Linked DNA regions of Homo sapiens. The protein of the gene in region 2 purifies or fractionates together with the protein of the main gene of each other region. This does not show direct contact. Each region holds a gene or a part of one and is shown on either strand. Other genes may lie near its edges. The genes, in order: VCF1, UBXN6, DNAAF5, TUBGCP6, ASPSCR1, NPLOC4 and QRICH1.

Region 1 (3,500 bases), on a different chromosome or scaffold from region 2:
TAGCTAAGATCATATCATGCCATGTACTTGGAAAAAACAGCTTCTAGATAAAAAGAGAAGGAAAATTGTTCTTCTCTGTTCCTGACTCAAAACAAAACTAGGGCTGGGCGCGGTGGCTCACGCCTATAATCCCAGCACTTTGGAAGGCCAAGGCGGATGGATCACCTAAGGTCAGGAGTTTGAGACCAGCCTGGCCAACATCGTGAAACCCATTTCTACTAAAAATACAAAAATTTGCTGGGCGAGCTGGCGGGTGCCTGTAATCCCAGCTACTCAGGAGGCTGAGGCAGGAGAATCACTTGAACCTGGGAGGTGGAGGTTGCAGTGAGCTGAGATCATGCCACTGCACTCCAGCCTAGGTGACAGAGCGAAACTCTGTCTCAAAAAAAAAAAAAAAGAAAAAAAAAGAGAAGACTAGGCTCTAGCTGCTCCTGGATATATTTAGCAAAGTCTCGCAGAACCTCTGTTCTATCTTCTGGGAGAGCACACACCATGGTCAGGAGCGTGCAGCCCAACAACCACACCCTGGGGCTCCGTTCCTCCTCTGCCTCTTACTAGCTGTGTTCTTTGGACAAGTGACTATTTTTCTGTGTGCCAAGTTTTCCATCTGAGAAGTGGAGATAATAATACCTACTAAAACAGGCTGGGCACGGTAGCTCACGCCTGGAATCCCAGCACTTTGGGAGGCCAAGGCAGGTAGATCACCTGAGGTCAGGAATTCAAGACCAGCCTGACCAACATGGAGAAACCTTGCCTTTACTAAAAATACAAAATTAGCAGGGTGTGGTGGCACATGCCTGTAATCCCAGCTACTCGGGAGGCTGAGGCAGGATAATCGCTTGAATCCAGGAGGCAGAGGTTATGGCAAGCCGAGATTGCGCCATTGCACTCCAGTCTGGGCAACAAGAGTGAAACTCCCTCTCAAAAAACAATAAACAATAAAAAAATAAAATGGGGGAAAGAAGCCATTTATGCACACATTAATTTATGCACACATGAAGTTTCTCTCTATATAACTAATCCGGCAAATCAGTTCACATTATTTAGCTTTATAGTATCTAGGAAAGAAGAGGCAGATACTATTATCTCCACTGTACAGATAGTTGTGATTTACTTGTGGCACAATTTAATGGTTTAACATAAATAAAACACCTCACATATTTCCTAGTACTCGCCATTATTATTGTACTTAAGCAAAAAGGTTAACTTTTAGAAATGAATTGTAAGTAACTTTTAAATCTCTCTTAGAATTAAAAAAAAAATTCCTCATGAAGTTCAAGTTATAAGAAAAAGAATTCTTAAACAGCCAGGTTAACAAAAAAAAGAAAATAAGAAAAAGAATTTGGCCAGGCCCAGTGGAGGAGGGTCAGAGGCCAGGAGTTCAAGACCAGCCTGGGCAACACAGCAAGACCCTGTCTCTACAAAAAATTAAAAAAATTAGCCAGGTTTGGTGGCACATCCCTGTAGTCCCAGCACCTCAGGAGGCTGAAGAGGAAGGATCATTTGAGCCCAGGAGGTTGAGGCTACAGTGAACCATGATCATTCCACTGCACTCAGCTTGGGCAACAGAGGGAGCCCCTGCCAGAAAGAAAAGAAAGAAAGGGAGGAAGGAAAGGAGGGAGGGAAGAAGGGAGGGAGGGAGAAAGGAAGAGAGGAAGGAGGGGAAGAGAAGAAAGTGGAGGGGAGGGGATGAGAAGGTAGGGGAGAGAAGGGGAGGGGAGAACAGAGGGAAGGAAGGAAGGGAATTCTAGCCAGGCATGGTGGCTCAAGTCTGTAATCCCAGCATTTTGGGGAGGCTGAGGTGGGAGGATCGCTTGAGCCCAAGAGTTCACGACCAGCCTGGGCCATATAGTGAGACGTCGTCTCTCCAAAAAAAAAAAAAAAAAAAAAACCTTAAAAAATTAACCCAGCATGGTAGCATGTGCCTGTAGTTCCAGCTACTTGGGAGGCTGATGTAGGAGTATTGCTTGAGCCTGGGAGGTAGAGGTTGCAGTGAGCTGAGATCACACCACTGCACTCCAGTCTGGGTGACAAAGCTTATTCATTCAGGGAAAACATAGGAAATGGTTTCTCTTACATAACTTAAGTTTCAAGGAAACTGACCTCATGGCCCTACCTCAGAATTAAAAGAAAACATTTTCATTAGTAATGTTATTAATAAAATATTTTGTCTAAATTGTTAATATAATTAAAAATGAATTGTTTTATTTTCCCTTTTATACACAATCATCAAAAACCAGCCAAATGTCCCTAAACTTGATTTTTTGCTGCTACAAACATAATCATTTATTCCAGTAGTGAAAACTTCATTATTTGGGGCTTAACTTTCCATTTTAAAAGATATTCCCTCTGCCTTTTGCTTCTCTGGCTCTCTCATCATTCACTTGTCCTTGTTACTTGTTAATACCACTGCCAGGAAGCACAGCGCAGCACAGCACAGCACAGCACAGGACAGGACAGGACAGGACAGCACAGGACAGGACAGCACAGCACAGGACAGGACAGGACAGGACAGGACAGGACAGGACAGGACAGGACAGCACAGCACAGCACAGCACAGGACAGGACAGCACAGCACAGCACAGCACAGCACAGCACAGGACAGGACAGGACAGCATAGGATAGGACAGGACAGGACAGCACAGGACGGCACAGCAGGCTATTCTGGTCAATGTTCAGTAAGCAAGGCTGAAACTAATGGTTGTAACACCCCATTAGGTGATCTACCAGTGAGTTCAGACAGAAACTACCAGTAATGACCTTAAACGATAAGGAAGACAATCTAGTCCTTCCTTCAGATAATGATTACGGAGTGGCTCAACAACTGAATTTCTTTGGACAAGTAAGGACAAGCTCAGCTAGAGAACCCAGGAGGTTGAGTAACAAGACGTTGTTTTCTTCTGTGAGACCAATGCACGGATTTTAGAAAGAGAGTAAAGGTCATTTTGTACCAAAAACTAAATAAATAAATAAATAAAATTTAAAAATCTACAATATCTGCCTTACTTAAGAGATCAGAAATGTTAATTTTTTTAAAAAAGGATGACAATTTCTTTCTTTTTTTTTAACCAAGAGACAAAAGCAAGAAAAAGATGGCAATTTCTATTGCTGTTCTCAGGCTTCAAAACTGGCAGATACGGGAAAAAAACGTTAATACAGAGAGTTAGACCTACCATACCCTTGACTGAAATGAACATCATATAGCAGGACTTACATACAGACACAAGTAAGGAAATACTGATGGCCAACACCATAGAAGTAATCTTTGCATACTCTTTTAATGAATAGTCTTACAATTCAAAAGAATGGAAACTCAATTACTATTACAGGGTTTTATCATTAGATATTCATGGTAGCCTCTAATCTTGTTTTCTTTCATCCCTGAGATTCCCAACTATTACATTAAACAAAGCTCAATTACCTTTCTGATAATCATTTTTTAAAAAGAAAAGAAAAAAGCAAATAGGAAAAAAATATATATATATATAATATATATATAT
Region 2 (3,500 bases):
CCTGAGGTCAGAAGTTCCAAGACCAGCCTGGTCAACATAGTGAAACCCCCTATCTACTAAATATACAAAAATTAGCCAGGCGTGGTGACAGGCGCCTGTAATCCCAGCTACTCAGGAGACTGAGGCAGGAGAATCGCTTGAACCTGGGAGGTGGAGGTTGCAGTGAGCCCAGATCACGCCATTGAGCTCCAGCGTGGACACTGGGTGACAAGAGCGAAACTTCATCTTAAAAACAAAACAAAACAAAATAGTAATAGTTCCATAGACTCTCCAGACTCACACCCACTCCAGCAGTGTGTGCAAAAGCACCCGTGTCCCCATCCTCTCACCATACTGTAAATCACCAAACTTTGATCTTTACGCCTGTTGGTAGGTGAAAATAACATCTCAGGATAGAGTTAATTTGCACTTTCCTTATTTTGGATTGGCCATGTTTCATATGAGAATGCGTCCTTTCTACATTATTTAGTAGATAGTTTGTCTTTTTATTAGTGATTTGTAGGCACTCTTTTTTTTTTTTTTTTTTTTTTTTTTTTGAGACAGAGTCTCGCTCTGTCGCCCAGGCTGGAGTGCAGTGGCGCCATCTCTGCTCACTGCAAGCTCCGCCTACGAGGTTCACACCATTCTCCTGCCTCAGCCTCCCGAGTAGCTGGGACCACAGGCGAACCGCCACCACGCCCAGCTGATTCTTTGTATTTTTAGTAGAGACGGGGTTTCACCATGTTAGCCAGGATGGTCTCGATCTCCTGACCTCGTGATCCGCCCGCCTCGGCCTCCCAAAGTGCTGGGATTACAGGCGGGAGCCACCGTGCCCGGCAGCACTCTTTACATATTAGGCAATTTAGGCTTTTGCCTATGATATGAGTTGCACATGTTTCCCTCTAGTTGCTTCTATGTTGGCTCTGCTTATGGTCACTTTGCTGTGTAGGATTTTTTGATCTCTGTATAATTAAATGTGTCAGTTTTAGTTCATGGCTTTTGGGTTTGGGGTCATTCTTAGAAATGCCTTCCCCATTTCCATGCTGAGAGAATTCTTTTGTGGCCTCTCCAGTGCTTTTTTTTTTTTTTTTTTTGAGACAGAGTCTTGCTGTCACCAGGCTGGAGTGCAGTGGTGCAATCTCAGCTCACTGCAACCTCTGCTTCCCGGGTTCAAGCAATTCACCTGCCTCAGCCTCCCAAGTAGCTGGGACTACAGGTGCACGCCACCACACCCGGGCTAACTTTTGTATTTTAGAGATGAGGTTTCACCATGTTGGCCGGGATGGTCTCGCTCTCCTAATCTCGTGATCCGACCGCCTCGGCCTCCCAAAGTGCTGGGATTCCAGGCATGAGCCACCGTGCCCGGCCTCCAGAGCTTTTCTTCTGGCTTCTCCTTGACTGCTTGCTTGTTTCCATGGTTGAAGCTTTGATCCAGCTGGAGCATGTTATTATGTAACATGGTGGGATGGAGCTGATGTAATTTTTTTTTTAGATCTTGGCTCAGCTTTCTTCTCAGCCCCACCTGTCGAGAGCACCTGTCTTTTGCTTACAGCTGTGAAATCCCACCTTTCTCACAAAGTACATTCCTGTATGGATTTGGACCCCTTCCTGGCTGCTGTTCCTTCGTCCCTTGTCTGTGCATGTACCCAGCTCCTGACCTAAGCCTGGCAGCCAGTCGCCCAAAACGCCCGAGGCCCGCTTTTGGAGCTGACACGCTTCCCTTGGCTGGTGTGCTGTCCCGGGCGCTCTGATCCCAAGGAAGCTGTTGTCTTGGGGACATGCCCATCTGGCAGCTCTGCCTCTCTGCATCCACGTGCTCTGTCCCGCTCCCCACATCATCTCAGCAACTAAACCGGCAGACTGGGCCGGGTCCCAATTTTCAGTTGGCATGAGCCCCGGCTCAGTGTGTAGGTCATTGGTCCGTGTGACGCAGGGGGCTGCTGAGGGACCCTGCTGTGCAGTTGAGGGTGGGGGGTGGTGGGTGGAGCTCTGGGCTGCCTGGGCAGGTGGCCCGAATCCTGACACATGGCCCTGGGCTGCCCTTCTGTTCACCCGCCCTCGTCTGGGCAGCCCAGGGAGGTGCGGGTGGCAGCCCTGCTTCCCAGGCCATGGGTGGCTCTCTGGGTGTGGCCGTGTGTGATGGCTGTGCCGAGCGTGGATTTGTGCCCCAATCTTTTCCAGGTCTTAGGGTACGTACTGTTCTCAGCCTCTCCATGCTGGGACGCTGTTCGCAGTCAGCAGGGCTGGTTCTGGGAAACCCCCAGAGTTCCAGCTATGACTTCTCCCCTCCCCCGGTAACATAGGTGGATAGGTGGGACCTCGGGGAGGGGCAGGGGCTGGGGGTATCCGTCTTCCAGCTATTGAGTTTCAGACATTGAGGGTTGCAGACTCATTTGTGTCCTCTCTGCCACCTGCCATCCCTGTGACCCTGGACGATGGGCCTCTCGGTCTCTTTGTAAACATGAGGCCCGGGAGTGGTTCCAGAACGTCCATCATGGGGCTGCGAGAGCAGGAGGGATGGGGCGTCCATGGTGGCGGGAGGTTCTGTAAGTGGCGGTGGCCTTGATGGATCTCAGCACTGAGGTCGAGTTCTAAAGCCAGAGTGTGAGGCACAGTTCTGTCGCGTCACACTGGCTTCCAAGTCCCATGGATCTAGCCTTGAGAAGGCGGAAGGGGAGACTTGAGTTCTGCTGGGTCTTGGCTGCGTCGCCTCTGCCCTGGGGCGTGGGCAGGGCTGCGGTCTTGGAGGGTCTCTCTTTTCCTTTCTGTGATGAGCGCACAGCTGGGGCCGCTCCAAGCCGCTGTTCTGCCTTCCTTTTCCTGCCCCTGTTACCTGGGCAGCGGAGGGCCGTGCGGCCCGGGCTCTCAGTGAGTGGCTTTCCCTGCTTCCCTCCTCCCAGCACTTCTCCACCGACCCAGTGGCCGCCTCCATCATGAAGATCTACACGTTCAACAAAGACCAGGACCGGGTGAAGCTGGGTGTGGACACCATTGCCAAGTGAGCGTGTGGCCCCTTTGCCCTGCCTGGCCCCTCCAGCTCATCCCAGCACCCCTCCCACTGGGGCTGTCACCCCCTCTGGCCCCCTCATTACCTGCTGAGGTGGGTTGGGAAGGAGCATAGGCCGAGAGTGAGGCAGCTCCACCCAGAGGCCTCAGGCAAAGGGCTGGGCCTCCTTGGGCCTCAGTTTACCCGTGTGCAAAATGAAGGTGTTGAAGGAATCAGGGGTTTCCCACCCTGGCTTCCTTGGGGAACATGTGGAGGAGGCAGGGTCCCACCCCACTCCCCGGGTCTCAGGATCGGGGGCAGGCCTGGAGGTCCACGCTGCCCGCCAACGCCGAGGGAGCACCCCGCAGGAGCCCCCTGCTGGCACTGCGGCCCTTCAGCTCTGGCTCTCCACTCTTCCGGCACTGTGGCTTCCCCACCGCTGTGGTTAATTGTGCCCTTCCAGGGCTGGTGGGACGGTGAGGGGTTCCGTGGGGCTCCTGCTGGCACCAGGGGTGGGCTCCATGGGGTGTCCGAG
Region 3 (3,500 bases), on a different chromosome or scaffold from region 2:
CGTAACCAGACTAAACTCTCCATTCAAAAGACAGAGCGGCTGAATGGGTAAAGAAAAACAGGACCCAGCAATCTGTTGCCTACAAGAAATACACGTCACTAAAAAGGCACACGTAGGCTGAAAATAAAGGGATGCGAAAAAAGATATTCCATACAAATGGAAAGCAAGAAAGAGCAGGAATAGCTACACTTAAGACAAAACAGATTTCAAGACGAAAACTATACTAAGAGACAAAGGTCATCATATAATGATAAAGGGGTCAACTCAGCAAGAGGATATAACAACTTTAAATATATATGCACCCAACACTGGAGTATCCAGATATATAAACCAAATATTACTAGAGCTAAAGAGAGAGACAGACTCCAACACAGTAACAGCTAGAGGCTTCAATGCCCCACTTCCAGTACTGGACAAATCATCCAGAGAGAAAATCAACAAAGAAACATCAGACTTAATCTGTACTATAGATCTAATGGACCTCATAGGTATTTATAGAACATTGCATCCAACAGCTACAGAATACACATTCTTCTCCTCAGCACACAGATCATTTTCAAGGACAGACCATATGTTAGGCCACGAAACAAGCCTTAAAACATGAAACTAGAAATTAATAACAAGAACTTTGGAAACTACACAAATACATGGAAATTAAATAATATGCTCCTGAATGACCGGTGGGTCAATGAAGAAATTAAGAAGGAAATTTTAAAAATTCTTAAATGAAAATGGAAACACAATATGCAAAAACAGCAAAAGCAGCACTAAGAGGCAAGTGTATAGCAATTAGCACCTACATTCAAAGAGCAGATAACTTCAAACAGCAACCTAACACTGCATCGTAAAGAACTAGGAAAGCAAGAGCAAACCAAACCCAAAATTAGTAGAAGACAAGAAATAAGAGCAGAAATAAATGAAATTGAAATTAAAAAAAATACAAAAGACCAACAAAATGAACAGTTAGATTTTTGGACAAGCAAAATCAACACACCTTTAACCAGACTAAGAAAAAGAGAAGACCCAAGTAAATAAAATCAGAGATCGAAGAGGACATTACAAACAACTGATACTACAGAAATTCAAAGCATCATTAGAGACTGTGAGCAACTACACTGTGAGCAATGACATCGTGAGCAGCGACACTGTGAGCAGCTACACCATGAAGAAAACCGTGAGCAACAATATCAGCAACTACAATATGAGCAACGACACCATGAGCAGCTACACCGGGAGCAGCTACACCATGAACAACTACACCGTGAGCAGCGACGTTGTAAGCAGCTACACCATGAAGAACAACACCATGAGCAATATGAGCAACTACAATATGAGCAACGACACCATGAGCAGCTACACCGTGAGCAGCTACACCATGAACTACACCGTGAGCAATGACATCGTGAGCGGCGACACTGTGAGCAGCTACACCATGAAGAACAACACCACGAGCAACGGTATGAGCAACTACAATATAAGCAATGACACCGTGAGCAGCTACACCGTGAGCAGCTACACCATGAGCAGCTACACCATGAACTACACCGTGAGCAATGACATCGTGAGTGGCGACACTGTGAGCAGCTACACCATGAAGAACACCATGAGCAACAGTATGAGCAACTACAATATGAGCAACGACACTGTGAGCAGCTACACCGTGAGCAGCTACACCATGAACTACACCGTGAGCAATGACATCGTGAGCAGCGACACTGTGAGCAGCTATACCATGAAGAACAACACTATGAGCAACAATATGAGCAACTACAATATGAGCAACGACACTGTGAGCAACACCGTGAGCAGCTACACTGTGAGCAACTATACTGTGAGCAACTATATGCCAATAAATTGGAAAACCTAGAAGAAATGGATAAATTCCTAGACACATATGACCTACACAGATTAAATCATAAATCCAAACCTTGAACAGACCAGTAACAAGTAATGATATTGAAGCCGCAATGAAAAGCCACTGAGCAAAGAAAAGCCCGGGTCGCAATATTTCACTGCCAAATGTTATCAAACGTTTAAAGAACTAATGTCACTCCTACTCAAACTATTCCAAGAACTAGAAGAGGAAGGAATACCTCCAAACTTAATTTATGAGGCCAGTACTACCCTGATACCAGAACCAGCCAGATGCAATCGAAAAGGAAAACTACAGGACAATATCCCTGATGAACACTGACGCAAAGTTTCCACTGTTTCAACAGCACATGAGAAAGATCATTTGTCATGACCAAGTGAGATTTATTCCAGGAATGCAAGGATGGCTCAACATACACAAATCCATCAATGTGACACATCATATCGGCAGAATGAAGGACAAGAACTACGTGATTATTTCAAGTGATGCTGAAAAGTATTGATAAAATTCAACATCCCTACATGATAAAAATCTTCAAAAAACTGGGTATAGAAGGAACACACCTCAGTACAATAAAAGCCATATACAAGACTCACAGCTAGTACCACACTGAATGGGGAAAAATTGAAAGCCTTTCTTCTAAATCTGGAGCAAGACAAGGATGCTCGCTTTCACCACTGTTAGTTAACACAGTACTGGAAGCTCTAGCTAGAACAATTAGACAAGAAAAATAAAGGGAATCCAAATTGAAAAGGAAGATAATTATTCTTGTTTGCAGATGATATAATCTTACATTTGGAAAAACCTAAAGATTCCACAAAAAACCTATTAGAACAGATAAACAAATTCAGTAAAGTTGCAGGATACAAAATCACCAAAAAAGCCCCAGTAGCATTTCTACATGCCAACAGTTAACAAATCTGAAAAAGAAATCAAGAAAGTAATTCCATTTACAATAGCTACAAACAAAATAAGATACCTAGGAATTAACTTAACCAAAGAAGTGAAAGATCTCTACAATGAAAACTATAAGGCCAGGCGCAGTGGCTCACACCTGTAATCCCAGCACTTTGGGAGGCTGAGGCAGTCGGATCACGAAGTCAGGAGATTGAGACCATCCTGGCTAACATGGTGAAACTGTCTCTACTAAAAACACAAAAAATTAGCCAGGTGCGGTGGCAGGCACCTGTAGTCCCAGCTACTCGGGAGGCTGAGGAAGGAGAATGGCGTGAACCTGGGAGGCGGAGCTTGCAGTAAGCAGAGATCGCACCACTGCACTCCACCCTGGATGACAGAGCGAGACTGTCTCAAAAAAAAGAAAGAAAACTATAAACCACTGACATGAGAAAACTGAAGAGGACACACACAAAAAATGGTAACATACTCCATGGACTGGAAGAATCAATATTGTCCATACTACCCAAAATGTCCATACTACCCAAAGCAATTTACAGACTCAACGCAATCCCTATCAAAATACCAATGACATTCTTCACAGAAATAGAAAAAATAATCCTAAATTTATATGGAACCTCGAAAGACGTTGAATAGCCAAAGCCATCCTGAGCAAAAAACAAAACAAGACAAAAACAAACAAAAAACTGGAGGGATCACATTACCTGACTTC
Region 4 (3,500 bases), on a different chromosome or scaffold from region 2:
CAGGACCCTGGATGCTGCTTCCCGGGCATGAGCGATTAATTCTTGTTTTGCAATTTCCATACGTAATTCCTGAGAAAGACAACTGGTAATCAAAGCATCCTGGCCGGGCGCAGTGGCTCACGCCTGTAATCCTGGCACTTTGGGAGGCCGAGGTGGGTAGATCACATGAGCTTAAGAGTTCAAGACCAGCCTGGACAACATAGCAAAAACCCATCCCTACTAAAAATACAAAAATTAGCCAGGTGTAGTGGCAGGTGCCTGTAGTATCAACTATTTGGCGGGGGTCAGGGGAGCTTAGGCAGGAGGATCCCTTGAGCCTGGGAGGTGGAGGCTGCAGTGAGCCATGTTCGAGCCGCTGCACTCCAGCCTCCTGGCTGACACAGTGAGACCCTGTCTCAAAGAAAAAAAAAGCAACCTAATCCTCTGACCCCTCACCTAGGATGCCCAGGACACCTGTGGACTCAGGGCCGGCAGGGGAGACACATGGTCCAAGGGTTCGAGGAGGGACCAGGTGATGGCAGGACACCGCCCCCCCGCCCACCCTCCCCCACCCCCAGGCTCTCAGCAGTGGCAAGGCTGGTTCCAGGCCATGGACGGGAGCTGACCGGCTCTCACAGAGACATCTGGGGCTGAGGACCCCAAGGCTGTGTGTGCCCACCCTGGAAGGAAACCAAGAGGCCTCAAGAGGGGGCTTCCCCGCTCAGCCTCTTAGGCCTGCCCCTGCCCAAGTATCCCTGCTGCCCACCAGGCACCAGGCCAGAAAGGGTGTTCCTGGGAATGGCACTGATTGTACCACCGAGCCCCTCCCAGAAGACACAGGAGAGGCGTGGCCCGTCCCTGACACACTGTCCCTTCCCAGCAGGAAGGGGGCTTGCAAAGGGCGAAGGCCATCTGGAGTGCAGCCAGGACTGTCTGTCCACAGCTGGCGGGCCCGGGGAGGCCCCAACGGAGTTTCCCACGCCAGCAAAGCCTGGGCTTCAGGCTGAGCCACCCAGACCCAGGAGGAGAAGTCAGAGCCCCTGCCTGGCATCTGGCTCCGGACATTCATCTCAGCTCCCCCTTGGCACCCACCCTTCATCTCAACTCCCCGTTGACACCCACCCTTCATCTCAACTCCCCCTTGGCACCCACCCAGGCCACCGCCAGGACAGAAAATGCCAGAAGGGAGGCCCCCATCTTGCACAGCCCTCATGTCCGCCCCACCAACCTGAGACCCCAGGAAGCAGAGGCAGGGGCGAAGAAAGCCCCCGAGACCTGTGGTGCCACGCACCTTCTCCTCCTTGCTGACAGAGCTGTGGCGGGCCACCCTCTCCATGCGCCCAACGTAGACGGCACAGTCCTTCTCAATCTCCTTCAACTCCTCAAGGGAGAAAATCACCGAGATCCGGGGGACAGGGACGTCGGACCAACAGAGGTAATGCTGCCAAAGGGGATGCAAGCACAGCCACCAGCACTCAGCCCCAGCCTCATACTCAGCCCCAGGGAAGACCGGCCCCTCTCTTCCCCACACATGAGCCCCTCCTCACCCGGGGGCAGCAGAGCTTCAGCAGGTTAATGGTCTTTCCGCAGACGTATATGTCGTGGGCAATGTGCTTCAGAAACACGGGAACACAGTCCTCCACCTCTTTGGAGATGAGCACGTAGCCATGTGTCCAGTACAACTTATCTAAGGTAGGGTGAACACCACGGTGGCCGGCATGGCCATGGCCCTGAACCCAGGCCCACAGGCACGGACCCCTGCCCCGCAATCAGCTGCCACCTACCTCGGAAGCTGAGGTACTCGTGGTTCACCTGAATCATGAACTCGCCATAAGCGTCTCTGAACACCCCGCTGTACACCCAGTCGTGGATGAACCTGCAGTGGGGGAAAAGCAGGGGTAGATGTGGTCAACGGAGAGGTGGGTGGGGCGTGGCTGTCAGTGAGGGGTGGGACAGGGGCGTGGCTGTCAGTGAGGGGCAAGTGGGGGCGTAGCTGTGAGAGGTGGAGTGGGGTGTGGCCATCCATGAGGGGCGGGATGGAGTGGGGGCAGGGTGGGGGGTGTGGAGTGGGGGCAGGGTGGGGGGTTGGGGGCTCCTGCCCAGTCCACCTATCCTGCCCTCCCCTTCCTGTGTGACCCCCACATTCAGCAGGTGTCTGACAAGGGACCGCTCTCAAGTGTCTGCCTGGTGGGAGTGCGCGCCCGCCGCGCCTGCCCAGCCCACTGCCCACCGGGTGTAGGGCTCGCAGCTGGTCTTCAGCAGGGACAGCAGTACAGGGTAGTGCTCGTTGCTGCAGTTGTGCAGAGCCTCCTGGTAGAGGTAGGACAGCAGCTTCACGCCCTGCAGACCGCAAAGGGGGTGGGGGGCAGCTCAGCGCACCCAGCGCTGGGAGTGAGGCGCAGCCCTGCCGGCAGCAGCCCTCCAGGGACACGCTCAGCCACCCCCGTTTCCTGGAGCCCACCAGGCTGACACACTCGGCAGGGACGCACAACTCACGGTGGGAAACGCGGCCCTGGGGCCTCCTCCACAGGTGCCCGGGAGCACAGCGCCAACGCCACAGAGCTCGGCCAGGTACCTAGACCCAGAGGCAGGATGAGACCAGGTGACCGGGCTCAGGGTTCCCAGGCCTGGATCAGATCGTGAGCAAAGTCTCCACGTATCTTTATGCTCCCTGGGGCAACTAACTTTAGATGCAGGCTTTAAAAACCACAGGCACCCCAACCACCCAGAAACGGGCTCCCTGCAGGACTCGTGTGCAGCCCTGTGCCCCTGCGCTGTCCACACACACCCCACTGAAGTACCCACACCCAGCAGGCCCTCCCTCCCAGGATCTGGCCAACACACGAATCACCCTGATCCTCCCACTTCTGGGGGCTGCACCTGAGAGCCCCTCCCATCCACACAGTGGTACCAAGCATCTGCCACAACTCGCACCCTTCACAGCCCAGCTCCCCTGCCCCACAGTGTCTCAGCCCTTGGGTCTCCTCAGCGCTGCCACACTCTGCTCCTCAGCCTGGAAGGTCGCCTCTCCCACTGCTCCCAATGCCCAGCTCCTCACTCTTCCTTCTCTGATGGCACCTGCCAATAGCCCCCGAGCCTGGTTGCTCACTAACCAGCTTGTGTGTACCGGACGCCACATCTCCAGGGACCCTGTGTGCCAATTAGGCAGGAGCCACCGGACCTGGAGGGCCTGGATGGGGCCAGCTGTGGTGGGCCCACGGCAGACACACCCGCTCAGCACCGGGCACCTGGTGAACTCGGCCGGCCAAGGGCCATCCGGTCGCCTGCTGAGGGCTGTTCTCACAGGCCCTCCTTGCCAGGGAGCAGGGCAAACCCTCCACCACCCAGCAAGCCCCACACCGCTCCCGCAAAGTCCCCTGCTCAGCCGCCATGCTGAGGCTCACCTGAGCTGCCGGCCAAGTTTCTTGAAGAGAAAACCAATGGTGAGGAGGCTCAGGGTGGGCGGAGTGGAAAGGACGCAGGCCCGGTAATACTGCAGGTACCTCCTCAGGCCACTGGTG
Region 5 (4,265 bases), on a different chromosome or scaffold from region 2:
AGAAGACTGGAATGACTTGGCAGGTATCACCCCTAAGAAACTCCTCCCAGGAGAGCCTCGTAAGGCAGGGTGGGCAATGCCAGGAGGGCAAGCTCCTGCCCTCTGCCCCCAGTGTTAGGACAACAGTACTGTAAAAACAGGTCTTCAAGGGCAGGCATGGTGACTCATCTCTGTAATCCCAGTACTTTGGGAGGCCAAGGCAGGCGGATCACAAGGTCAGGAGTTCTAGACCGTCCTGGCCAATGTGGTGAAACCCCATCTCTACTAAAAATATAAAAATTAGCTGGGTGTGTTGGTGAGCACCTCTAATCTCAGCTACTCGGGAGGCTGAGGCAGGAGAATCACTTGAACCTAGGAGGTGGAGGTTGCAGTGAGCCAAGACCGTGCCACTGCACTCCAGCCTGGGCGACAAGAGTGAAACCCTGTCTCAAAAACAAAACAAAACAAAAAAAACACCAGAAAACAGGACTTTAAAGTGAAAAGCTTCGCGTGTGGGATAGACACGCACATCCTATCCATATGAGGGCTCTGACCCTTCTGCTGTCTCAGACTCCTTGAGAGTCTGGCAGAAGCCCTCTCTTGGGAACAATATCCCCACACAGAAGCGTACGTGTAATTCCAGGGGCTGTGAGACTGCAGGGATCCACCTGCAGTTTTCAAGGCATCCTATTTCTCCACGGCCAGCTCTTTCCCCTCAGAGCCCCACTGGGAACTTATGCAACTCAATGCAATAAAACCTACAGGGGGTTGAATGGTGGCCCCCCCAAAAAAGATGGGTCAATGTCCTCACCCCCAGGACCTCTGAACATCTTACTAGGGATCCTGGTCTTTGAAGATGTAATGATAAATCGTTCTAGATTATCCAAGTGGACCCTAAATCCAATGACAAGGGTCTTCCTGAGACACAGAGAAAACAGGAAAAGGCCACAAGAAATCGGAGGCAGAGAGCAATGCGGCCACAAGCCACAGAACGCTTGGAGCCATGAGAAGCTGGAAGAGGCAGGAGGGATTCTCCCTTAGGGCATTTGGAGAGAGTGTGGCCCTGCCAAGGCCTTGGGTCTCCAGAGTTGGGAGGGAATATATGACTGTTTAAAACCACCTGGGGGCTTTTCCAAGTGAGAGCCAGTATGTTCAGGGGGCAGGGGCACAGATATACTCAGACCCTGCTGCTGAGCTGGAGCAAACTCACTTCAGATCATATTCACAGGGGTTGAAGTCCTGCCGCCGGCACGTGTCCTCCAGAACCTGGGGGTGAGATGAAAGGATGGTGAACTGCTGAGTGTGCAGGGCTGGCGGGCGCAGTGGGCCAGGTCAGCCAAGGGCATTCAGCTTCCTGGTGAGCCAGGTGGCTCTGCCCAGGCAAAGCCAAGCACAAGACCACACTATGGACGGTCCCCGCAACAAATGCAGGCTCTCACCTGCAAATCCTGTCCACTCTCCCTCCCTTCTTCACCATCCCCTCAGTTTTGTAGGAAAGCTCCACTCAGAGTTCCCCTGCAGTACAGCAACACGGGCATCTTCCTGGCACACACCCTGGGCTCTCCTTCAAACCCTGTAGTTCTGCAACCTGCCTTAAACTTGCCTAGCACAAGCTACCCCCTGGCTCTGGCACGGTTCTGTGCACCTGCTGCCACTGCCTGCACCGCCTCCGCCCCTCTTCTCCATAAAAAGCCAAAGCCGTGGCCTTGCACCAAGGGGTCCCGCGCAGCCTCTGCGGGAGCGCCCCACTTCCGCACTCTGCACGCCTGGCACCAACAGCCTCCTGGCTGCGCCCTCCACCTGCCCAGGCCTGGGGACCCCACGCCGTGGGCTGCTCCCGCAAACTCCGAGTCGTGTGCACCTTCGGATCCTCACGGTCCCCCACGCAGCAGAGGCTCAATAAATACTTTTTTTTTTTTTTTTTGATATGGAGTCTCGCTCTGTCTCCCAGGCTGGAGTGCAGTAGCGCGATCTCGGCTCACTGCAAGCTCTGCCTCCCAGGTTCACGCCATTCTCCTGCCTCAGCCTCCCGAGTAGCTGGGACTACAGGCGCCCGCCACCACGCCCGGCTAAATTTTTTTGTATTTTTTTAGTACAGACGGGGTTTCACCGTTTTAGCCAGGATGGTCTTGATCTCTTGACCTCGTGATCCACCCGCCTCGGCATCCCACAGTGCTGGGATTTACAGGCGTGAGCCACCGCGCCCAGCCAATACTTTTACATTTAATTGATTCGCGGTCACAAGGTGCCCAAGTAAAAGTGCAGTGAGTGACTCGGCAAAAATCGCTTCCAGGCCCCACGGCCGGGACATCTGCCACCGCGCAACCCGGGCTCCCGCTCCGGGGGACGCCCCGGAATGGGAACGCGGGTCTAGGGCTCCACTCCTCCCTCTTCCCGGCGCCCTCGCGAGCTGGGCTCGGCCGGGCGCCGAGTACTCGATGCGGGTGACACGCGGCGCCGTTCTACCTCACCCCTGGGAAGGCTCGCCACCGCCCCGCCCCCACTCGGGACCCCCGGGACCCCCGGGACCCCAGCGGAAGCGCAGGTGACGGCGAGCAGGGGGCGGGGCCGCCGCTCAGGAGGCCGCTCATTGGCCGCCGAGGCCCCGCCCCCGAACACCGGGACGCCGACCGCAATGGGCGGGGCCTCGGCGCAGCGCCCCCCGCCCGCCTACCCGTCCGCCCCGGGCGGGCGGCCGCACCTGAAGCAGCACGGTGCTCGGCGTCACCTTCACCGTGTGGCGCCGGCCGTTCGGGGCCAGCACCGACACCGCGGAGCCTCCGCCGCCTGCCGGGGCCGCCATTTTCCGCTCACGTGACCCGCCGCCGGGCCGGCGTCAAACAACTTTATCGGCAACAGCCAGGACGCGCAGCCACGCGGCCAGGGGGCGGGGCCGCAGCGCACTTCCGGGTCCTGCCAGGCCCCGCCCTTTCCCCACCCACGGCGCCCCGGCCCCGCCCTTGGGCCGCCAAAGCCCGCGCCAGACCCGGAAAGCGCGGTCGTCCTCTGCCTCCGGGAAGCGCGGCTTGGATGGGCTCGCCGGGGCCAGGCTGGGCCGGGGCTGGGCGCGCGGTCACCCCCGGTGAGCGGCACTGAGCCCCGGGGTCCCAGCGGTCCGCGCTCGCCCACCCTCGCTTCGTCCCTGACACGTCCCCAGCTCGGTGCCCTGCTCTCCCCCGACCCTCCCGGCTTCCTCCACTCCAGCAGCTGAGCCTCTTCCCTGCCCACCTGTCCCTGTGGTCAGCGTCCACCTCCTGACCTTATGGTTTGGGGCAGTCCCCCCGCCCCTGTACGGATCCTCCCTGGGTGTTGGGACTCGTGGCCCTCAGTCTAGACCTGATTTCTTTCATCCTAAAATGGGAGTGCAGAATCTGGCAGCCCTAGGGCTGCCGCGACGGTCCCTAAACCTGAGGGTAGGAAAGGCGGGAGACCGGTTTCAGAACCGTGGGGTGAGCGAACTTGAGTCTCACCGGAGCTCCTGCCGACCCACAGGCACTCAAGGACTTCCCGCACCAACCCATGCTGAGGAGGGGCTTGGTGGCAGCCTCAGGAAACACTCCCATCGCCAGCCACCGCAGCAGGGAAAGCACCTGGCCTCACCAGCTCCAGGCTTCCAGAAGGAGCTGCCCTCCTGACTCGCAGCCGTCGAATGTGCTTAGCTCCCAGCACCTGGGCCACTCATGGACAGCACTCGCACGTGTTCCGCCCCGCCCCCCACCTCCATGGCTCAGCCGGGCCTTGGCACTCCTCTCTCCATGTGCCTGCCTGTCTCTGCGGACTCCTGGCTAGGGCTCAGCTGCCCAGTAGCCTGTGGAAGGGGGAACTGGTGCAGTTATCAGTCAATCCTCCCACAGGGCTGGGATTACACACGTGAGCCACCGCACCCGGCAGTCATTGCTGAGTCTAAGGACATCTCTGCATGGGTGCTGTTGTGCCTTCCTGTCGATGACATATCCATGTCACCCACACACACCTGTATGCTGACAAACACGGACATCTATGTACATTGGAGAAACCTGGGGAAAGCCCCAGGCTAGCCATAGCCCTCCCATCCAGCCAGCCAGTCCCATGCTCTGTGCAACCTCAGAACCTTACTGAGCCACACATCACCTGGTGGGTTTTAATTCTTTAGTGGCGTTTTTGAAGAGTCTGTTCCTATTTTCCTTAGACTGTCCCACAGTCTGGATCCTTGGTTAAACGTTTGGGGCAATGATGAAGGGAGGTGACAAGTCAGCAGGAGGTGCAGGACATCAGCGTGGCCATGAGTGAGGACGTGAAGTTGAACC
Region 6 (3,500 bases), on a different chromosome or scaffold from region 2:
TGCCCGGCCAAAATAAAGTAGTTTTCAAGAAGAAAAAAGGAATAGAGAATAGGAGGTTTCCAAAAAAGTCGAGGAGGCCACGGAATTCTCTCTAAGGAGCCGTTTTCTCTAAGGGCACAGCGGCAGGAGGAAGGCGAGGCAGGCTACTCAGAGGCGGGACAAGGACAGCAGAACATCCAGAAAGGCCGGAACGCTCCCTCCTTCCTGAGCCACATTCTCTCCTTAAGCCAGCCTGGACAGGTGCTCAGAGCTGGTCCAAGGGGTGCCCCTTTACCAACCTTCAGAGCCAGTTTCCTCACAACCACTGAGGATTTTAAATAATCATCAGGAACATTCTGCCTCCATATGAGCCAGCAAAACAGAGAACTGAGGGCGCGCACTCCATATCTCCAAGAGCAAGAAGCCTTAAAAATGATATATTCAGTGTACCACTTCCACAAAAGGATCATTCAGTCCATCAAAAAGTACTGAAAATCCACCACGCATAGTGCTAATAGCATTCCACTCCAAGGGGCTCTTCTGGAAATATCCGTTTCTCAGCCATGAAAACAAATCTAGACAGACAGGGAACATCTCACCTGTCTGTTCAGCGTGATGGCGCTCGGCTGGCACTTAGTACAGATGCCATTCGGCCACGGGAGGTGCCCCTCGCACCCTGACTTAATCTTGCAGCTGATGTTCTCCAGGGCAACAAACTTCCCCCTACATAGAAGAGAAGCAACTTAAACATCACATTGGTGAAAAGTTGAGCAAGAGGCTGGAAATGACATGCTAAGTATCTTATACCTCCTGAACAGTGTCTCAGGAGCTAAGCACGTGGCAGCAGCAGGGAAGATGGGCTAAGGATGATTCTAATGGAAGCTCTACCTACAGTTCCAGCACATTCCGAATCCCAGCTTCTGTCCCACATACTTCAACCATACAGGAACACACAACTACTTTCCTACCAAACTGTGGTGTTTTTTACCATCTATCACTAACATCCGAGAAAGCTTTCAAGAATACTGTAGAATATCTACTGATCTCACCTGTGCCACTGAGCGGGCATGAGGCTCCTACAGGTTTCATTAAATTGTCAGAAACTTTGACATTAGCCCAGTACTTAGATATTTGTAAAAAATTCTTATTCATGGGAAAAATCTGATTAGGATATATAATTAAGGCATCTTTACTCTGCTTTAGGCTAAAATAAAAACTACTGTTGAAGACTGTCAATGAGAAAATCCTGGACCCTACTCTGAACTTTTTCTTTTTCTCCAGCTTTATTGAAATATAACTGACAAAAAAAAAAAAAAAAGAAATCTGTATCTTTAAGGTAGACGTGAGGTTTTGTTTTTCAAATAAAAACGATATATTTACAGTGTACGAAATGATATTCTGAAACATGTCCACACTGTGGAACGGCTAAATTGAGCTAATTAACATATGCATTACCTCACATACTGATCATTTTTGGTGGTGAGCCATTTTTGGTATCATAGCATCTAGGAAGCAAAGACTCGTCACTGAATCTGCATGCTAACAGCAGCCACAAACACGCCCCCACTAGAGACTGTGTTCCTTGACCTAGACTGAGAAAGGCTGACCAAGTCTCTTTCACTACAATCAATCTGCACCCACTCCTTAGTCCAGAGAGTTCCACAGCTTTCCCCACTGACAAGCAACAGTGGGTTTCTAGCAGGTTTTTTCTTCTGGTCTAACATTTTTAAAAAGTCATTTTAGGATGTCAGCAGGTTGTCAGAGAAAAGCTACAATCAGGCGAATATGACATCCTTCACAAAATGTTGCTGACTTCAGTTCAGCCACCATCTCCTCGTTGCACTGACAGGAATTATAAAATAATAGCTGAAGCCTGCTACTTTCTGGTAGGGTGTACAGAGAGCCAACAGGAGAAGGTCATACAGGCAAGGGCTTGCCATGGCTTAAAAGAAATCAAAATGCTCAGTTCACCCCTTTCTGGCCACTGTTACCACCTCTGCCCACCTGGCTGAGCCTGTGGGCAACTACTGTGGTACCATGAGGATTAGTGGCTGCAGCCCCTGCTGTGGCTGAAAACCAAGCTGACTCAGAGGCCAGGCTCTGGGGAAAGGGTTACCAGGCACTGAGGTGGGGAAGCTGAGATTCTCACAGGGTAGTTGTTTTTCTGAAAAGCAGAGAATGAACTCAGACCACAGAATCAACAGGCCACCATCACAGATGCTAACTTGCTGGGGTGGTGTGTGTGGGGACAGCCTCTGTCTGATACTGCACTGTGGCCACGCAGCCAGGCGCCTGCACAGTCGCTCTGCCTTGCTAGCTCCCTTCTAGAACCAGGTTGGCCAGGCGAGGTGGCTCACACCTGTAATCCAGCACTTTGGGGAAACCAAGGCAGGAGGATCACTTGAGCCAAGGAGTTCTAGACCAGCCTGGGCAACATAGTGAGACCCCATCTCTTAAAAACATATATGAGTACATAAAAAATAAATAAATAAATATAGAACCACGGTAACTTTCAAAGGCGTGTGACCCCTTCTCATCTTTACTTCTCTCATTCACACGTTCACTGGCTATAAGCAACAACTGCCAGCTACACAAAAAGGAATTTACGCACAACCAGGTTACAGCAAGTTGCTTACTTGTCAGCCCCTCCAGTCAGCTTCCGGATGTAGGCGTGGAAGGACATGTGCTTCACGGGAGGCTCGAGATGGTTTAGATAGTCCTCATCGAATGGCTGCCAAGACACAGAGTAAGCGAGTGCAGTCTCACACGTGCCGGTCACTCCAGGCGCTGAGCCTCTGCTACGCACAGGGGGAGGCCAGCAGCATGGCCTTGGCAAGTCAAGGCCCACAGTGAAAGCAGGTACTAGGGTCTCCCTTACCACTCTGAGTCAGAACCAAGTTTTTCTTTTTTTAATTAATTGTTTTTTGTTTGTTTGTTTTGAGACGGAGTCTCACTCTGTCGCCCAGGCTGGAGTGCAGTGGCACAGTGGCACAGTCTCTGCTCACTACAACCTCCACCTCTGGGTTCAAGCAACTCTTCTGCCTCTGCCTCCCAAGTAGCTAGGACTACAGGTGCACGCCACCACGCCCAGCTTATTTTTGTATTTTTAGTGGAGACGGGGTTTCAGCATATTGGCCAGGCTGGTCTCAAACTCCTGACCTCATGATCCACCCGCCTTGGCCTCCCAAAGTGTTAGCTTTACAGGCGTGAGCCACTGAGTCTGGCCAATTTAACTGTTTTAGAGATGGGGTCTCATGCTGTTGCCCAGGTTGGAGTATGGTGGTGCAATCATGGCTCACTGCAGCCTCGACCTCAAGTGATTCTCTTGCCTCAGCTTCCTGAGTAGCTGGGACTACAGGCGTGAACCACCACACCCAGCTAATTTTTTAAATTTTTTGTAGAGACAGGGTATACAAAAAAAGAGTTGCCCAGGCTGAACAATTCCTAGGCTCAAATGATCCTCTGGCCCTGGCCTCCCAAAGTGTCGGGACTACAGGCGTCACTGCACATAGCCAGAAGCA
Region 7 (3,500 bases), on a different chromosome or scaffold from region 2:
CTGTGTTTTTTTTTTTTTTTGGGCGGGGGGGCGGGGGTGGCACGGGGCAGACTCTTGCTCTTGTCGCCCAGGCTGGAGTGCAGTGGCACGATCTCAGCTCACTGCAAGCTCTGCCTCCCAGGTTCATGCCATTCTCCTGCCTCAGCCTCCCGAGTAGCTGGGACTGCAGGCACCCACCACCACAACCGGCTAATTTTTTTGTATTTTTTAGTAGAGACGGGGTTTCACCGTGTTAGCCAGGATGGTCTCGATCTCCCGACCTTGTGATCCACATGCCTCGGCCTCCCAAAGTGCTGGAATTATAGGCATGAACCACTGCACCCAGCCAAAGACACACAGGAATCTTAAAGGCATATTGCTAAATGAAAGGAACAAATCTGAAAAGGCCACATGCCGAATTATTCCAACTATATGACATTCTGGAAAAGGCAAAACTGTGAAGATAGTAAAAACATCAGTGGTTTTCAGGGTATCTGGGGGAGGGAGGGATAAACAGGTGAAAAGGTTTGTTTTTTTTTTTGAGACGGAGTCGCGCTCTGTCACCAGGCTGGAATGCAGTGGCGCAATCTTGGCTCACCACAACCTCCGACTCCCTGGTTCAAGCGATTCTCCTACCTCAGCCTCCCGTGTAGCTGGGATTACAGGTACCTGCCAACACACCTGGCTAATTTTTGTATTTTTAGTAGAGATGGGGTTTCACCATGTTAGCCAGGCTGGTCTTGAACTCCCAATATTCAGTGATCAGCCCATCTCTGCCTCCCAAAGTGCTGGGATTACAGGTGTGAGCCACCATGCCTGGCCCAGAAGAGGTATTTTTTAGGGCAGTAAACATTCTATATGACACCATGATGGTGACACATGTCATCATACATTCATCAAAACTCAGAATGTACAACAGATACAGAATGTAAACCAGAACGTACAACACAATAATATAGTTCATAGCACTATGAACTATAGTTAACAATAATGTATCAATATTGGTTTATCAATTATAACAAATGTACCATACTAACGCAACATGTTATTGATAGGAGAAACTGTGTGTGAGGGTATATACTTAAGGAGTTATATGGAAATTCTCTGTACTTACTGCTAAATTTTTCTGGAAACCTAAAAGTACTCTAAAACATAAAGTCTATTGGCTGGCCGTGGTGGCTCATGCCTGTAATCCCAGCATTTGGGAGGCCGAGGTGGGCGGATCACCTGAGGTCAGGAGTTCGAGACCACCATGACCAATATGATGAAACCCTGTCTCTAGTAAAAATACAAAAATTAGCCAGGCGTGGTGGCATGCTCCTGTAATCCCAGCTACTTGGGAGGCTGGGATAGGAGAATCACTTGAATCTGGGAGGTGGATGCTGCAGTGAGCCAAGATCACACCATTGCACTCCAGCCTGGGCAACAAGAGCAAAACTCTGTCTCAAAAAAAAAAAAAAAAAAAAAAAAAAAGTCTATTAAAAACAAAAATAGGCCAGGCACGGTGGTGGCTCACGCCTGTAATCCCAGCACTTTGGGAGGCCGAGGTGGGCAGATCACAAAGTCAGGAGTTTGAGACCAGCCTGGCCAATGTGGCAAAAGCCTGTCTCTACTAAAAATACAAAAATTAGCAGGGCATGATGGCACATGCCTGTAATCCCAGCTGCTCAGGAGGCTGAGGTAGGAGAATTGCCTGAATTGGGACCTGGGAGGCGGAGGCTGCAGTGAGCCAAGATCGTGCCACTGCACTCCACCCTGGGCTATAGAGTGAGACTCCGTTTCAAACAAAACAAAACAAAACAAAAATAGCTGAGCACAGTAGCGCATGCCTATAGCTCCAGCTACTCAGGAGGCTGAGGTAGGAGGATCGCTTGAGTTCAGGAGTTTGAGGCCCATCTCAGCAACATACCAAGACCATGTTTTTTTAAGAACAAACAAAGAAAAACACTGAATAACCTATGCTTTTGTTCCAATAGAACATGCTGTCCAGAAGGCTGCCTGTGAGTAAAGCAAAAATTATGCTCTACAGATAAAACTGTCCATAATCCTTAATTGTTATGATTCTAATTTTAATCAATACATTTTAATAGGAAAAAAAAGATAGTAACTACCCCACTAGTTCTGCTTGTTCCTGTGTCCTTCCCACACTGGAACCAGCAGGCTTCTCTGGTGAGCAGTGCCTCTTCCCTATCAGGGCAAGTAGCACAGTGGCCAATGCTGCTGCAGTCTGGGATTTATATCCCCCCTCACTCACATGCTTTTCATAGCCAACCACAGAAGCTATTGATCTTTCTTAAATCCAGGTAGGAAAGATATCCAAGGACAAGGGAGACTCTTACCAAGTGGAGTGACCCGGGGCTGAACATCCTTCAGAACTTCATGTAGCCACTCCGTGAACCGAACATAATAAAGATCGGAGAAAATGTCATCTACCCTTCCATTTTCAAAAAGATACTAAAAGAAAAACAATTAATAGAAGTTATTGGTAGTCTCCTGAACAAGGATTTCAGGGGAAATAAATATATTTTTCTACCAGTACTACTATCCTTCCCTACCCATTCACACCTCAACAAACCAAGGCACCAGCATGTGACACTTCCATAGTATGCCTAAGCTCATGTGACTGATTCTCATGACATTCTTGAGAGTTGGGTAAATAAGGCAGATGTTGTGAATGCTATTTCACCCAAGAAAGGCATTATTTTGTGTTAGCAAAAATCATGAATAGGCTCTGGGGTCAGCCTTCCATTAGATATTGTATAAGTTAAACAACATGTGCAAGTCTTTTAATTTCTGAGACTCAGTTTCCTTGCCTGTAAATGGAGATGATGGTATCTGCCTTCCAGGACTGGGAGAGCAAAGAATGAAAGCATGTAAAGCAATTCACATAGTACTTAGGTTAGGACCACCAAGAGAGGAAAAAACTAGGAGGCAGACATTTCTCAAGACTAGGCAACAGAATAAGTCCCAACCAGTAAGCCCTATTCTATTATACTGTGGGTTTCTCCTCAAGAGCCTTCAAACACTAAGAAATCCACCTCTGCTCCCTTGAACTGCCAGTCTGCAAATTTCTGTTATGCTTCACCACAGATGTCCTGAAAACCTAACTACATTGGTATATTATTCTAGCTAGACTCCTTCAAATAAGTAGTTAGTGCAGGGAACAATGAGAAGAAAACCTCTATGCTGGCACAAGACTCTGTTTTGAATAAATTACCTTCATGAAAATCAGGTTTAACAAAAAGAAAAGTGTTACATAAATGCTTTGTGAATTACAAAAAAAAAAAAAAAAAAAAAAAGTCAAGGTAATTACCAATAATGTAATAGAAGTTTAGGTAGTAGGATGAATAATGTTTGTTTTCCTATTTTATTATTTATTTTATGTATTTATTTTTTAAGAGGCAAGGTCTTGCTTTGTAGACCAGATTGAAGTGTGATGGCACAATCATAGCTGAATGCAGCCTCGCACTCCTGAGCTCAAGGGATCCTCCTGCCTCAGCCTCCCAAATAGCTGGGACTAC

The links.
Region 1: the proteins of UBXN6 (region 2) and VCF1 purify together in Homo sapiens (affinity purification with mass spectrometry; 3 studies listed by BioGRID and IntAct, with this or other methods). This does not show direct contact.
Region 3: the proteins of UBXN6 (region 2) and DNAAF5 purify together in Homo sapiens (affinity purification with mass spectrometry; one large-scale study listed by BioGRID and IntAct). This does not show direct contact.
Region 4: the proteins of UBXN6 (region 2) and TUBGCP6 purify together in Homo sapiens (affinity purification with mass spectrometry; one large-scale study listed by BioGRID and IntAct). This does not show direct contact.
Region 5: the proteins of UBXN6 (region 2) and ASPSCR1 purify together in Homo sapiens (affinity purification with mass spectrometry; 6 studies listed by BioGRID and IntAct, with this or other methods). This does not show direct contact.
Region 6: the proteins of UBXN6 (region 2) and NPLOC4 purify together in Homo sapiens (affinity purification with western blotting; 3 studies listed by BioGRID and IntAct, with this or other methods). This does not show direct contact.
Region 7: the proteins of UBXN6 (region 2) and QRICH1 purify together in Homo sapiens (affinity purification with mass spectrometry; 2 studies listed by BioGRID and IntAct, with this or other methods). This does not show direct contact.

Annotation. Positions count from the first base shown.
Region 1 is NC_000017.11:73,222,395-73,225,894, forward strand, and holds part of VCF1 (protein VCF1), read right to left. Parts: intron 1-3,500.
Region 2 is NC_000019.10:4,447,795-4,451,294, reverse strand, and holds part of UBXN6 (UBX domain-containing protein 6), read left to right. Parts: intron 1-464; exon of another isoform or gene 465-2,879; coding exon 2,880-2,977; exon of another isoform or gene 2,978-3,500. UniProt on the Homo sapiens protein: May negatively regulate the ATPase activity of VCP, an ATP-driven segregase that associates with different cofactors to control a wide variety of cellular processes.
Region 3 is NC_000007.14:733,199-736,698, reverse strand, and holds part of DNAAF5 (dynein axonemal assembly factor 5), read right to left. Parts: intron 1-3,500. UniProt on the Homo sapiens protein: Cytoplasmic protein involved in the delivery of the dynein machinery to the motile cilium.
Region 4 is NC_000022.11:50,224,524-50,228,023, forward strand, and holds part of TUBGCP6 (gamma-tubulin complex component 6), read right to left. Parts: coding exon 3,384-3,500; intron 2,555-3,383; coding exon 2,476-2,554; intron 2,320-2,475; coding exon 2,210-2,319; intron 1,856-2,209; coding exon 1,764-1,855; intron 1,667-1,763; coding exon 1,527-1,666; intron 1,421-1,526; coding exon 1,271-1,420; intron 70-1,270; coding exon 1-69. UniProt on the Homo sapiens protein: Component of the gamma-tubulin ring complex (gTuRC) which mediates microtubule nucleation.
Region 5 is NC_000017.11:81,976,164-81,980,428, reverse strand, and holds the start of ASPSCR1 (tether containing UBX domain for GLUT4), read right to left. Parts: upstream 2,801-4,265; 5' UTR 2,783-2,800; coding exon 2,681-2,782; intron 1,246-2,680; coding exon 1,190-1,245; intron 1-1,189. UniProt on the Homo sapiens protein: Tethering protein that sequesters GLUT4-containing vesicles in the cytoplasm in the absence of insulin. Modulates the amount of GLUT4 that is available at the cell surface. Enhances VCP methylation catalyzed by VCPKMT.
Region 6 is NC_000017.11:81,606,113-81,609,612, forward strand, and holds part of NPLOC4 (nuclear protein localization protein 4 homolog), read right to left. Parts: intron 2,711-3,500; coding exon 2,616-2,710; intron 703-2,615; coding exon 579-702; intron 1-578. UniProt on the Homo sapiens protein: The ternary complex containing UFD1, VCP and NPLOC4 binds ubiquitinated proteins and is necessary for the export of misfolded proteins from the ER to the cytoplasm, where they are degraded by the proteasome.
Region 7 is NC_000003.12:49,042,072-49,045,571, forward strand, and holds part of QRICH1 (transcriptional regulator QRICH1), read right to left. Parts: intron 2,434-3,500; coding exon 2,319-2,433; intron 1-2,318. UniProt on the Homo sapiens protein: Transcriptional regulator that acts as a mediator of the integrated stress response (ISR) through transcriptional control of protein homeostasis under conditions of ER stress.